Homo sapiens: one gene and its partner. The protein of the gene in region 1 interacts with the protein of each later gene in a biochemical or structural test. Each region holds a gene or a part of one and is shown on either strand. Other genes may lie near its edges.

What was found. Proteins that work in one complex are often made in the same cells at the same time.
Region 2: of the proteins of H4C14 (region 1) and RPS6KA5, one has a biochemical effect on the other in vitro, tested with the Homo sapiens proteins (one study listed by BioGRID).

What each region holds. Positions count from the first base shown.
Region 1 is NC_000001.11:149,827,383-149,834,236, forward strand, and holds H4C14 (histone H4), read left to right. Parts: upstream 1-5,274; 5' UTR 5,275-5,302; coding exon 5,303-5,614; 3' UTR 5,615-5,670; downstream 5,671-6,854. UniProt on the Homo sapiens protein: Core component of nucleosome. Nucleosomes wrap and compact DNA into chromatin, limiting DNA accessibility to the cellular machineries which require DNA as a template.
Region 2 is NC_000014.9:91,049,741-91,057,641, reverse strand, and holds part of RPS6KA5 (ribosomal protein S6 kinase alpha-5), read left to right. Parts: intron 1-5,179; exon of another isoform or gene 5,180-5,319; intron 5,320-7,901. UniProt on the Homo sapiens protein: Serine/threonine-protein kinase that is required for the mitogen or stress-induced phosphorylation of the transcription factors CREB1 and ATF1 and for the regulation of the transcription factors RELA, STAT3 and ETV1/ER81, and that contributes to gene activation by histone phosphorylation and functions in the regulation of inflammatory genes.

The DNA of each region.
Region 1 (6,854 bases):
CTTTCAAAAGCAATTTCTGGCTGGGCGTGGTGGCTGATGCCTGTAATCCCAGCACTTTGGGAGGCCGAGGTGGGTGAATAACTTGAAGTCAGGAGTTCGAGACCAGCCCAGCCAACACGGTGAAACCCCGTCTCTACTAAAAATACAAAAAATTAGCTGGGTGTGGTGGCAGGCGCCTATGATCCCAGCTACTTGGGAGGCTGAGGCAGGAGAATCGCTTGAACCCGAGAGGCGGAGGTTGCAGTGAGCAGAGATCTCGCCACTGCACTCCAGCCTGGGCAACCGAGAGAGACTCTCTCAAAAAAACAAAAACAAAAATAAAAGCAATTTCTTCTCTCTGCATTCTCCATGTTACTGAAACCTAACATCAACCCCATAGCTCCTCAGGCCAGAAGCTCCTTTATTGCATGCATTCTCCAAATGCCTAAATCACCAATTTTTTCTTTCTTTCTTTCTTTCTTTCTTTCTTTCTTTCTTCTTTCTTTTTTTTTTTTTTTTTTTTTGATACGGAGTCTTGCTCTGTTGCCTAGGCTGGAGTGCAGTGGTGCGATCTCAGCTCACTGCAAGCACCGCCTCCCGGGTTCACGCCATTCTCCTGCCTCAGCCTCCTGAGTAGCTGGGACTACAGGCACCCGCCACCACGTCCGGCTAATTTTTTGTATATGTAGTAGAGACGGGGTTTCACCGTGTTAGCCAGGATGGTCTCGATCTCCTGACCTCGTGATCTACCCGCGTTGGCTTCCCAAAGTGCTGGGATTACAGGTGTCAGCCACCACGCCCGGTCAATTTTTGTATTTTTAGCAGAGAGGAGGTTTCACTGTGTTGGCCAGGCTGGTCTCGAACTCCTGACTTCATGTGATCGGCCCACCTTGGCCTCACAAAGTGCTGAGATTACAGGCATGAGCCATCACGCCCCGCCCTAAAACACCAAATCTTATTAAATCTATATTCTACAACTCTGTCACATCCATCACTTCATCTCTGCCCACTCCTAGCACTGACTTAGCTGAGGACATCATCAATTCTGATCAAAGGACCCTAAGTCTAAGTAACAATACCACTTTCATGGTAGGCTTTCCCCGGAACCAGCTGGACATAATGAGAATTTTCAAGAGAATGTGAATTGCTCTTTACTTGATTTTCTTTTTTTTTGAGATGGAGTATCGCTTTTGTCGCCCAGGCTGGAGTGCAATGGTGCGATGTCAGCTCACTGCAACCTCCACCTCCCGGGTTCAAGCGATTCTCCTGTCAGCTTAGCCTCCTGGGTAGGTGGGATTACAGGCGCCCGCCACCAAGCCCGGCTAATTTTTTTTTTTTTTTTTTTGTATTTTTAGTAGAGATGGGGTTTCACCATGTTGGTCAGGCTGGTCTGGAACTCCTGACCTCAGGTGATCCGTCCGCCTCGGCCTCCCAAAGTGCCGGGATTTCAGGCACGAGCCACCGTTCCCGGCGATTTTCTTTTCTTTAAGACTAATCTGAAAGTGCGGAACTCTGTGTACCTGAAATGATTACATTTTGATATTGACATGAAAAAATTGGGTACTACTTTGCCCCAGTTTCTCAACCCAACAAAGACATTCCAAAAGTTTCCTATGGGGCCTAGGAAGGTTGGCCTTCACAGGATAGTGGCAGGAGTGTTAACTTTGTCCTATTACCAAAAGGTGTCAAAGCTGTTACTAAATTGTCTGTGTCAGTATCGGAAACCCCGACAGCACTGGAGAATTCCTCATGGTCCTTCCAGACCATGGTCACAGTGAGAAGCAGATTCTGTTGCCCTGGCCCTGTGGGGAAATCCCCAAGATGGCTGCTGATAGTTAAGGAAACAGTGTCCTGCCATGGCCTGACCCTAGGCTGGGTGAGAGAGAGTGGGTCAGACAGGCTGCACTTCCTCAGTGAGTGTGCATACACCTGTTCGCACTGCCTATCGTTTCCTCACCCAGTGTGAGAGCAGGGGGCTCAGTTGGGCTGAGTGGAGAATTCATGGGACCTTTCCATGGTCAAGGCCCAGAGCTTCTATTGTGTAGCATCCCTGGAACAGAGAACAGGAGGCAGTCACAAGGCCCCAGCTTCAACCTTTGACAGTACACCAGAAAAGACCAAGTAGTGAGGCCTCCACTGTCTCACACCAGCCAAGAAAGACCAGGTCTTAGACTATCCAGTGTTCCTGCCTCTCTTTCACGGTGCTGTATCTGGGGAATGAATACTCCATTGTCATAGGAGGGGCAGATGCGGGCGGAAGACTCAGAAGGGTCAAGGTAGGACATAGACATTCCCACTAAGCTAGAGACCCCTGAACTGCCATAGCCATGACATGCACACGTTGTCCTCAAATCCCAGGGCCATGGGCAGGTCTTGGATATCTTTGGAATTTTAAGTTGGTTGGCATCTGTCTAGTTTTAAACCTGATTTAGGTTCAGTTCAACCAGGGAGTATGATTCTTTGGGGAGAGGGCCCTGACCTAGAAATCTACATGCTCAGCGGTCTGCTCAGCCACTAATGGCTCTGACACACTGGAAAGGCACTCACCCTCTGGGAGTTTCAGACTGTATCTTTGAAAACAAAATTCAGTGGATGGGGTGCAAAGGTATTGTCCTCAACAGCTCTAAGTTACTACTTCTAACTCACAGAGCACATATCACAAAGGATCCCACTATCCATTGTCGGTCTGAGCAGGGAATGAGACTTTGGCAGACCATGAATCCTGTATTAATTTCTAGGGGGACTATAACAAAATACCACAGACTTGGGGGTTTAAACTGAGATTGCACCACTGCACTCCAGCCTGGGTGACAGAGTAAGACCCTGAGTCAAACAAAAAAAAAAAAAGTGTATACATGGGAGCACTCTGTGATGAGTAACTCAAAGGAGTGGTTAGAATTTGGGATCTACCTAGCAGCAGGGGAAAAGGAGGAGGAGTAAAGGACATATGGAAAACCAAATGACTTTTGAAAAGATAAATGGGCCCTTAGAATAGATGGAAGATTCGAGTCTTGTGACAATGTCTATTTGGGTGTGGTGACCACTTCTCATCTCCGAGGTTAGATTTGCTTCTAGTGCTGAAGAAGATTTATGACAACTGAGTTAAAAATTTGAGATTTGCGAGGAGGATCTGCTATTAAACAGGTAAGGGATTTTAGCTGTTTGTTTCAGCTGAAAATAATTCTTAAGTCGAAACTGGCACATTTGGAGGTAGCATGTCCTGATCCCCTTAAAAAGGGAACTGCACAGACACCGTATCTCTGATTCTGCCCAGGGTCCTGTGCCCTCTGACACCAGAAATCACCACTTCTCTCAGCCTTGTTTTGCGGTTGTTTTATCATGTTGCAATTTGGTTATGTCTTTTCTAATAGTGTTTAAAAGCAATCAAAGGCAGGAACTTTTCCTTTTATAAACTATTGTTGAGCTTATATTGGACACTGAACTAAGTGTCAGTTTACAAAAATGAATAAACAAAAATCACTGCCAGTAGGGAACACACAGCCAAGATGGGGGAGTAGTAAGATGTAAAGAGATGTAAAATAATGTGATAGATTCGGCCAGAGTTACTAAAGAGTCAGAAAAGGGCAAGCATGTTTCTTCCCTGTCCTGAAGCAGCCAAGGGAGAGGAAGATATCTGTTGCCAATGCTGGGGTGTTGGTTTAGGCATGTAGATGCTGTGATGCGCAGTGGAACCGTTCAATGAGCAGACAGGAGAACCAGCTTTATGCGGGGAGGGAGAGAATTGCTCCCCTCATCCCCCGTGAGTCACACCCTGGAGATTATAAGTTTAAACATTTTGATTTCGGGAGATTTTGAGTTTTGGGCTTAAAATGACTGAAGAACCACCAGGTGGATCTACGTGTCTCGAGTCCAGAAGTCTGAATACAGATTTACGATTTATGAGCACACAGAAGGTGGATCCAAGGGAGAGATTAAACAGGGCACAGAAGAGTTTTTAAAAATAATATTTTTCGGGAAAAAAACCCCAACAAAACACGATTCTTTCAGCAGAAACCAGAAGATTTTCTCATAGACTCTCCTACAGAGAGCCCTGATAAAGTAATAAACATGCTAACAGTAAGAACCCCAACCAATTTCATAGGGCAGTTTGCGGTAACTACTCCCAGTATGGAGCAGACAGTCCTCTTGCAAAACCCGATTTAGCAAACTTTGCTAGCTCCATGTGGGGCCTCCAAAGGACACAGCTGGGCACTAAATCCTGGCTGAAAACAAAGGCCGATTTAGAGGATCCGTAGAAACGGATGCACAGAATATCCCTCAGTCTTCTCTATGTAGCAGGCCCTCCATATACGCGGGTTCCCCAAGACCGAAAATATTAAACAAATGAATTTCTTTTTTAAAAAAAAGTACAACAAAAGATAGTAAAAATAAAAACAGTATAACAATTACTTACATAGCATTTACACTGGATTAGGTGTTACGAAGTAATTTAGAGACTATTTAAAGTACACGGGAGGATGTGCATAGTTATGTGCAAATACTACGCCACTTTCTATGAGAGACTTGAGCAACCTGGATTTTGGTATCGGCGGGGGCCCTGGACCAATCCCCTCTCAGTTCTACCGAGGGAGAACTGTTTTGTTTCTTCCAGCACGGCTTTGACCGACAGTGTGTTGGGATTCGCTGACGTCCATGAGAAAGCTTGGCAGCATGCTGAGACCAATTTTCCCAGGGCCAGAATTCTCCTGTGTGAGCTAAAATACAGTGGCTCGGTCCAACAAAACAGAGCCTGGAGCCAGGAATTATGGCGAACCTGCTCCCTCCCGTCCTCCCTTGGCGCACAGATCCCTGGCGCCGCCGCTCTTGAGGTCGCCTCTCGCGTGTCGACCTCATCGTCGGAACGGCGCTTCCTGAAGCTTTATATAAGCACGGCTCTGAATCCGCTCGTCGGGATTAAATCCTGCGCTGGCGCGCTCCTGCCAGTCTCTGGCCTCCATTTGCTCTTCCTGAGGCTCCCTCCAGAGACCTTTCCCTTAGCCTCAGTGCAATGCCTTCCGGGCGTCCTCAGACCAGACACAGGCCAAAGCCACTACAGAATCCGGAAGCCCCGGTTGGGATCTGAATTCTCCCGGGGACTGTGGCGTAGCGGTTAAAAAAAAAAAAGAGTGAGAGGGACCTGAGCAGAGTGGAGGAGGAGGGAGAGGAAAACAGAAAAGAAATGACGAAATGTCGAGAGGGCGGGGACAATTGAGAACGCTTCCCGCCGGCGCGCTTTCGGTTTTCAATCTGGTCCGATACTCTTGTATATCAGGGGAAGACGGTGCTCGCCTTGACAGAAGCTGTCTATCGGGCTCCAGCGGTCATGTCCGGCAGAGGAAAGGGCGGAAAAGGCTTAGGCAAAGGGGGCGCTAAGCGCCACCGCAAGGTCTTGAGAGACAACATTCAGGGCATCACCAAGCCTGCCATTCGGCGTCTAGCTCGGCGTGGCGGCGTTAAGCGGATCTCTGGCCTCATTTACGAGGAGACCCGCGGTGTGCTGAAGGTGTTCCTGGAGAATGTGATTCGGGACGCAGTCACCTACACCGAGCACGCCAAGCGCAAGACCGTCACAGCCATGGATGTGGTGTACGCGCTCAAGCGCCAGGGGCGCACCCTGTACGGCTTCGGAGGCTAGGCCGCCGCTCCAGCTTTGCACGTTTCGATCCCAAAGGCCCTTTTTAGGGCCGACCACTTGCTCATCTGAGGAGTTGGACACTTGACTGCGTAAAGTGCAACAGTAACGATGTTGGAAGGTAACTTTGGCAGTGGGGCGACAATCGGATCTGAAGTTAACGGAAAGCTACCGCGGCCCATAGCGCTCACAGCCGTAAAGACTTAAGTCGTTGACCGAAAGCGGCTTTTTCACTTACCTGGGCTTTTTTTTTTTTTTTTTTTTTTTTTAAAGCCTTTATCGGTATGAAAGGTTGAATGCTCTAGGTTTGAGCACTGCTTTCTCGGCTTGCTCTTCTGGTGCAGTATAGGCACACCTAGAGGGCCACGTCAGTCTTTGCGATCACCAAATCTGGTTCTGAGAAATAGGCACTGGCAATTTACACATGCCTTGCTGTGTAATCTCACTATATTTGCTCAGGCAAAGTGGGAGAAGCAGCCTTAGGTTTTCATTCTAGAGATGCCGGCTTTCCCACCTGATCGGCTTAGAGTTCACGATTGACTGTTTTGGGCTTCATTTCACCCTCTACATAACAAGCGGGTGGACTAGATGCCTTAGCAAGGGTCCGTGTTGTGTGGTGTCTCCAGCCACGCACTCAGCTCAATCTTAGCACAGTTAAAAAATGCCTTTCTAGCAAGTTATCTGCCCAGTGCCTGAAAAGTATCATTTCTTGTGTTCAATAAAAAGCCTCCTAATTTAATCAAGGACCTATGAGATAACTGTCTTTTAGTTGTGGCATTGCAAGGATACAAATGCAGAGATATTTTAAAGTGATCCTTCTGTAAGAGTGAACCAACGATATGATCTGAAAGCAACTTCACAGGTAATTCAGGTATGTGACTTCTACCTCTTAGGGCCTGTTGTAGCTTAGAATGAGAGACCTGCAGAAACATGCCCACCATCAATACAGAAAGCACAATTTAATTTTGACAAGGCCAAAAGCCAATTCTGTATCAGCATGGCGTATATTACAGCAAGCTATTCTTTACGCTACCACCTCTAAATTGCCCTAATTTGGATTAAAATGTGGGTTCACATTTCTAATCCTTATAGTTTTGCAGCCATTGCATTGCCCGTAAGATTTTTTTTTTCTTCATTCCAGGCTTATGATTTTACTGTGTATGTATTTGGGAGAAGAAATTCTGTCAGCTCCCAAAGGATAAACCAGCAGTTGCTTTATTGGTCTTCAGATGTGGCTGCAAAC
Region 2 (7,901 bases), on another chromosome or scaffold:
GCTGTTATCTTTTTCTGTATATGTCCAGTCTTCTCATGTAGAGTGTAAATTCGCCATAATCTTTGCGGCTGCTCAGCAGCCTGTGTGGATCTCTTCAGTAACAGTTAACACACGGTACTATAATAGTCCATTTACTTGTATTACAGTCTAATACAGATTAGACTGTAAGGTCCTTGAGGGCAGGCAGGCAGGCAGACACCATGTCCTTTGTTTATTTGCAGCCCCTGGCATATAGTAGGTACTTAATATTTGTTGAATGGATTCACTGAATGCATGAGAATCCAGGAGCAAGTCTAGTAAGTTTATTGTATTACCAGTGCCTTGCAGATGTTAGGTGGTTGATAAGTGGATGACAGTGACTGTAAAAGCTGAAGAATGCAGAGTATAGGATTGAACAGATCACTTAAACATACATTTCTTGAATGTATGTCTAAGAAAATGTCCCGCCCTCTAGTAGTAGGGGAGGAGGCCATATAAACCAGTAATTAAGATAATACTGCCTTGGGAGGCTGAGGCGGGTGGATCACGAGGTCAAGAGATGGAGACCATCCTGGACAACCTGGTGAAACCCCATCTCTACTAAAAATACAAAAAATTAGCTGGGCATGGTGGCACGTACCTGTAGTCCCAGCTACTCGGGAGGCTGAGGCAGGAGGTTCTCTTGAACCCAGGAGGCGGAGGTTGCAGTGAGCCGAGATCATGCCATTGCACGCCAGCCTGACAACAGAGCAAGACTCCCATCTCCAAAAAAAAAAAAAAAAAAAAAAAAAAAAAGATAATACTGCCTTAAGTATAACAGTAAAGGGATATTCAAGTATAAAGTTAGCAAAGAATGGGTTAGGACTTTTAGCTTTCAAATAATCAAATCTTCAACAACAATAACAAAAAGGATATTATTGGAAGGAGATTGGGTTATCTTACCCACTTATTTAGTAAGTATTTTATTTCCTCTTACATACTGGGTGCGATTTTAGATGCTTGGATGATAGGACATGTATGGTCTGTCCACTGGAAGAACTGGGTTGCATCAGGAACCATTGGAAGCAGAAACTTAGCATTGTCTGTATTTTGTCCACCTTGAATCTCTGCTTGTCACTATGTGATGGCTTTATTCTTCCCCACTACTGTGCCACTTTTCCCACATGGGAAAGATCATGCTGTTGATAGACTGCAAGTTTTACATCCTACAGCTTCCACTACTGAAAAGACACCGCCGCCTTCTCAGCTTCAGTTATAAAGATCTCAGGGAAGGACTTTTTTGGCCTGCCTTTGGTGAGGTATCCACTTTTGGATCATTCACCTAAAGCCAGGGGATGGGATCATGTTTTTGTAACATGGCAGCAATTTCTGTAAACATGGATAGGGATAAAACTAAACTCTAAGAAGAGGAGGAGTTGCTGGGAAGACATTTACTTAGATGCCTGTTATTAGGAGAGAGAGCCTAACATTGAGGAGAAGGTCGAGGAAGTTTATGTATTGTGGTGTAACAAATTATTCCAAACCTTAGTGGCTTAAACAACATGATTTGTGTGGGTCAGGAATTTAGGAGTGGCTTAGCTTATTGGTTCTTTTTTTTAATCCTAAGTGAATTAACACAGGAAGCTTCTTGATTCTAACTCAGGGACCCTCATGAAGTTGAAGTCAAGGTGTTGGCCAGGACTGCAGTCACCTGAAGACTTGTCTGGGTCTAGTGATTCCCCTTCCGAGATGGCTTACTCACATGTTGGCAGGTTCCTTGCCATGTGGGCCTCTCCATAGCGTGGCTTGAGCATTCTCATGACAGGCAGCTGGTTTCCCCAAAAACAAGTGATCTGAGAGACAGCGAGGTGGAACCTACCATGCCATGTCTTTTGTTGTTGTTTTGTTTTTTTGGAGACGGAATCTATCCAGGCTGGAGTGCAGTGGTGCGATCATGGCTCACTATAATTTCAAACTCCTAGGCTCAAGAGATCCTCCTGCCTCAGCCTCCTGAGTAACTCTGGGACTACGGGCATGCACCACCACACCTGGCTAATTTATTATTTTTTTGTAGAGACAGGATCTCATTATGCTCACACTGGTCTCCAACTCCTGGGCTCAAGAGATCATCCCACCTGGGCCTCCCAAAGTACTGAGATTACGGGTGTGAGCCAACCTGCCCGGCAAAATTAATCCATTTGTAGCATGCATCAGTACTTCATTTTGTTGTTGTTGTTGATAAATTGTGTTCCATTGTATAGATATACCAAGTTTTGTTTATGCATTCACCACTTGTTTGAAATTTGGGTTGTTTCCACCTTTTGGCTATTGTAAATAATGCTGCTTTGCACATTTGTGGACAAGTTTTTGTGTGGACCTATGTTTATTTCTCTTGGGTATGTAACAGCAGTAAAACTGCTGGATCACTTGTTAAAACAAAGCTAAACAAAGTCTGGGTTTACCTTTGTAAGAAACTGCCAAACTGTTGTCCAGAGTGGCTGTATCATTTTATATTCCCATCAGCAATTTATGAGGCCTCCAGTTCCTTCACAGCCTAACCAACATTGTCTGTCTTTTTGCTTATCATAGGGAGTGTGAAGTGATTTTCCATTTCCCTAATGCCTAATGACAAGCATCTTTTCATGTGCTTATTGGCCATTTGTATACCTTTGGAGAAATTTGATTCAGATCCTTTGCCCAGTTTAAAATTGGCTAGTTTGTCTTTTTTTATTATTGAGATATGAGAGTTCTTTATGTATTTTAGGTACATGTCTCTTATCAGGAATATGGATTTGCATATATTTTCCTCCATAAATGAGCTGTCTTTTCACTTTTTTGATGGTTTCCTTAGGAGCACAAAAGTCTTTAATTAAAAAAAAATTTTTTTTTTTAAATAATAGAGATGGGTTCCTGCTATGTTGCCCAGGCTGGTCTCGAACTCCTGGGCTTAAGTGATTCTCCCTCCTCGGCCTCCCAAAGTGTTGGGATTGTAGGTGTGAGCCACTGTGCCTGGCCTAAAAGTCTTTAATTTTTTTTTTTTTTTTTTCTGAGACAGAGTCTTGCTGTGTTGCCCAGGTGGAATGCAGTGGCATGATCTTGCCTCACTGCAACCTCTGCCTCCTGGGTTCCAGCAATTCTCATGCTTCAGCCCCCTGAGTAGCTAGGATTACAGGCGAGTGCCACCATGCCTGGCTAATTTTTGTATTTTCAATAGAGACGAGGTTTCACCATGTTGGCCAGGCTGATCTTGAACTCCTGTCCTCAAGGGATCCACCTGCCTCAGCCTCCCAAAGTGTTGGGATTACAGGTGTGAGCCACCGCTCCTGGCCCTAAAAGTCTTTAATGTTGATGAAACCTTTTTTTTTTCTTTTTCATTTTATTCTTGTGTCTAAGAAATCATTGACTAATTCAAGATTATGAAGATTGATGTCTCTGTTTTCTTCTAAGAGTTTATGGCTTTAGCTGTTACATTTAGATCATTGATCCATTTTAAGGTAATTGCTGGATATCATGTGAGGTAGTGATTCAGACTCATTCTTCTGCATGTAAATATCCAATTGTTCCAGCACCATTAGCTGAAAAGACTATTTTTTTCTCCATTTTAATGTCTTGGCACCCTTATTGAAAATCAGTTGACTATAGATGTATGGGTTTATTTATTTTATACTCTCAGTTCTCTTCCAGTGATCTATATGTCTCTCCTTATAGCAGTACCATGCTGTCTTGACTACTACAGTTTTTTAGTAAGTTTTGAAATTGAGAAGTGTGAGTCTTATTCTTCAACATTGTTTTGGTTATTCTGGATTCCTTGTATTTCCATATGGATTCTAGGATCAGCTTGTTAGTGTCTGCAAAGAAGCCAACTCAGTGGCATTCTGATAGGGATCTCATTGAATTTTTAGTTAAACTTTGGCAGTGTTGCCATCTTAGCAATGTTAAGTCGTCTGATCTATGAACATGAGATGTCTTTCCATTTATTTAGGTTGTCTTCAATTACTTTCAACAACGTTTTTCCGTTTAAGGAGTATAAATTTGCACTTTTGTTAAATTTATTTCTAAGTATTTTATTATTTATTTATTTTTTGATGCTATAGTAAAAGGAACTAGTTTCTTACTTTTATTTTTGGATTGTTCATTCCAAGAGTATAGAGGTACAGTTTTTACCTTGTGTCCTGCAACCTTGGTGAACTAGTTTATTGGTTCTAATAGTTTAGTGGACACCTTAGGATTTTCTATTTATAAGATTGTGTTAGCCATGGATAGAGATAATTTTACTTCTTTCTTTCCAATCCAGATATCTTTTGTTTCAATTTCCTGCTTAATTGCCTTGGCCAGAACCTTCACTATGGTTCAATAGAACTTGCAAGAGCAGACATCCTTGTCTTATTCCTGATCCTAGGGTGAAAGCTTTAGTCTTCTACCACTGAGTATGGGGTTAGCTATGGGTTTTTCATAGATGTATTTTATCAAATTGAAGAATTTCACTTCTCCTCCTAGTTTGGGTGTTTTTTTAAATCATGAAAGAGTGCTGGATTTTGTCAGATGCTTTTTTCTGCATCTATTAAGATGACCATTTTTTTTGTTCTGTTCATATGGTGTATTACATTAATTAACTTTTGAATGTTAAGCCAACCTTGTATTCCTGGGATAAATCTTGTTTGTCATGGTATATAATCCTTTTTCTTTGTTGCTGGATTCAGTTTGCTTGTATTTTATTAAGGATTTGTATCTATATCCATAAGAAATCTTTGTAGTGTTCTTTTTTGGTGATACCTCTGTCTAGTCTCCCCAAAATATTCTTGATTGAGTTCTGTCACCAACTAAAGAGCTTTTTTTTTTTTTTTTTTTTTGGAGATGGAGTCTCGCTCTGTTCCCAGGCTGGAGTACAGTGACGCGAACTCTGCTCACTGCCAGCTCTGCCTCCTGGGTTCACGCCATTTCTCCTGCCTCAGCCTCCCAAGTAGCTGGGACTACAGGCACCTGCCACCACGCCCAGCTAACTTTTTTTTTTTTTTGTACTTTTAGTAGAGACGGGGTTTCATCGTGTTAGCCAGGACGGTCTCGATCTCCTGACCTCATGATCCATCCGCCTTGGCCTCCCAAAGTACTGGGATTACAGGCTTGAGCCACCGCGCTTGCCTAAAGATCTTATCTATTTGATTAGTGGTATCCATATTTACAATCTCTTAAGTAAATCTGTTTTTTTTTTTTTTTTTTTAAGAGACGAGTCTACTCTGTTGCCCAGGCTGGAGTGTGGTGCTGATCTCGGCTCACTATAACCTCCGCCTCCTGGGTTCAAGTGATTCTCCTGCCTCAGCCTCCCAAGTGGCTGGGATTACAGGCACCCACTACCATACCCAGGTAATTTTTTTTTTTTTTTTTTTTTTTTTTTTTTTTTAGTAGAGATGGGGTTTTGCCATGTTGGCCAGGCTGGTCTTGAACTCCTTACCTCAGATGATCCATCTGCCTGGGCCTCCCAAAGTGCTGGGATTACAGGCATGAGCCACTGCATCTGGCCTTAAGTAAAGATTTAACAGAGGTAGGGAGTGGACTGTAGTTCTAAGTCAGCCCCTAATTTGCTATATGACCTGGGATAAGTCATTTTGCCTTTCTGAGCCCAAGTTTTTTGATTCATAAAGTAAAGGTGATGGACTGAGTTATAATCAAAGTATTTACGAGCATTAAAGCTCTTCTGTGGCATTTCCATGGAAATTCTGGTATAGACAAAGTTAGTTCCTTGTCTTTTCCCGATCCTAGGGGGAAGGCTTTAGTCTTCTACCACTGAGTATGAAGTTAGCTGTGAGTTTTTCATAGATGTTCTTTCTCAGGTTGACAAAGTTCTCTTCTATTCCTAGTTGGTTTGGGTGAGCTTTTTCTTTTTTTTTTAAATCTTTCGGCCAGACATGGTGGCTCATGCCTGTAATCCCAGCACTTTGGGAGGCCGAGGCAGGTGGATCACCTGAGGTCAGGAGTTCGAGACCAGCCTGGCCAACATGGTGAAACCCCATCTCTAGTAAAAATACAAAAACTTAGCTGGGCACGGTGGCGGGCACCTGTAATCCCAGCTACTTGGAAGCTGAGGCAGGAGAATTGCTTGAACCTGGGAGGCGGAGGTTGCAGTGAGCTGCGATCGCACCATTGCATTCCAGCCTGGGCAACAACAGCAAAACTCTGTCTCAAAAAAATAAAAAAATAAAAGGATGTTTCATGATAAAAAGTCCAGAGTGGTGATTTACTTTATTGTTGTTGTATTTTAAAATTTCATTTTATTGAGACAGAATCTCACTATGTTGCCCAGGCTGGTCTTGAACTCCTGGGCTCAAGCAGTCTTCCCATCTCTGCCTCCCAAAGTGTGGAGATTACAGGTATGAGCCACCATTCCCGGCTAGTGATTTACTTTATTTATTTATTTATTTATTTATTTATTTATTTATTTATTTTTATTTAGACAGGGTCCCACTCTGTCGCTCAGGCTGGAGTGCAATGGCGTGATCTCAGCTCACTGCAACCACTGCCTCCTGGGTTCAAGTGATCCTCCCACCTCAGCCTCCCAAGTAGCTGGGACTACAAGTGTGTGCCACCACACACCGCCACGCTTAGCTTATTTTTGTATTTTTTGGTAGAGGTGGGGTTTCGCTATGTTGGCCAGGCTGGTCTGGAACTCCTGACCTCACGTGCTCCACCTGCCTCGACCTCCCAAATGGCTGGAATTACAGACATGAGCCACCACACCTGACCCTATGATTTACTTTAAAAGATCATCCTGTTTTACCAAAGGATTCATGTTGGATCTGTTGAAAAACAACAGTTCCCTGCTGCTTTTTGAATGTGGTTCCATTAATAATGATTTGATTTGTAATTAGCTTTTAAGAAACATAACTATTAGTTCCAATAAGATACTTGCTTTTTTTTTATTTTTATTTTTTTAAACAAACATAGCTTACAAAAGCAAGCCGGCTGGGCGCGGTGGCTCACGCCTGTAATCCCAGCACTTTGGGAGGCTGAGGCGGGTGTATCACCTGGGGTCGGGAGTTTGAGACCAGCCTGGCCAACATGGTGAAACCCTGTCTCTACTAAAAATACAAAAATTAGCCAGCCATGGTGGCAGATGCCTATAATCCCAGCTACTTGGGAGGCTTAGGCAAGAGAATTGCTTGAACCTGGGAGGCGGAAGTTGCAGTGAGCCGAGATTGTGCCACTGCACTCCAGCCTGAGGGACAGAGTCAGACTGTGCCAAAAACAAACAAACAAACAAAAAACAAGCCAATAAGATGCTTTGTTTTTGTTTTTGTTTTTGTTATTTTTGAAGATAAGGTCTTCTCTGTTGCCCAGGCTGGAATACAGTGGTGATAATAGTTCACCGCAGCTTCAAACTCTTGGGCTCAAGTGAACCTTCTGCCTCAGCCTCCCAAGTAGCTAGGACTGTAGGCACATACCACCATGCCTGGCTAATTTTCTTTTTATTTTTTGTAGAGATAGGGTCTTGCTATGTTGCCCAGGCTGGCCTTGAACTTCTGGCCTCAAGCAATCCTCCTGCCTCAGCCTCCCAAAGTGCTGAGATTATAGGCAGCCCAGTAAGAAACTTTGAAAGATTTCAGTGACAGTTGTAGTTATGTATGAGTACAGTGCAGCTCTCCTTTTTATACTATACATATGTAAATGTATATATTCATGAGCTGCATAATGACATTTTGGTCAATGGCAGACTGCATGTAGATTGTGGTCAATGAAATTGCGTTACTGTATTTTTACTCTACTCTTTCTCTGGTTAGATACACAAATACTTAAAATTGTTTTACAGTTGCCTATGGTATTCAGTACAGTAGCATGCTGTACAGGCTTATAGCCTTGGAACAATAGGCTATATACCATATACCAGGTGTGTAGTAACCTATACCATCTAGGTTTGTGTAAGTAAACTCTATGGTGTTTGTGCAACCATG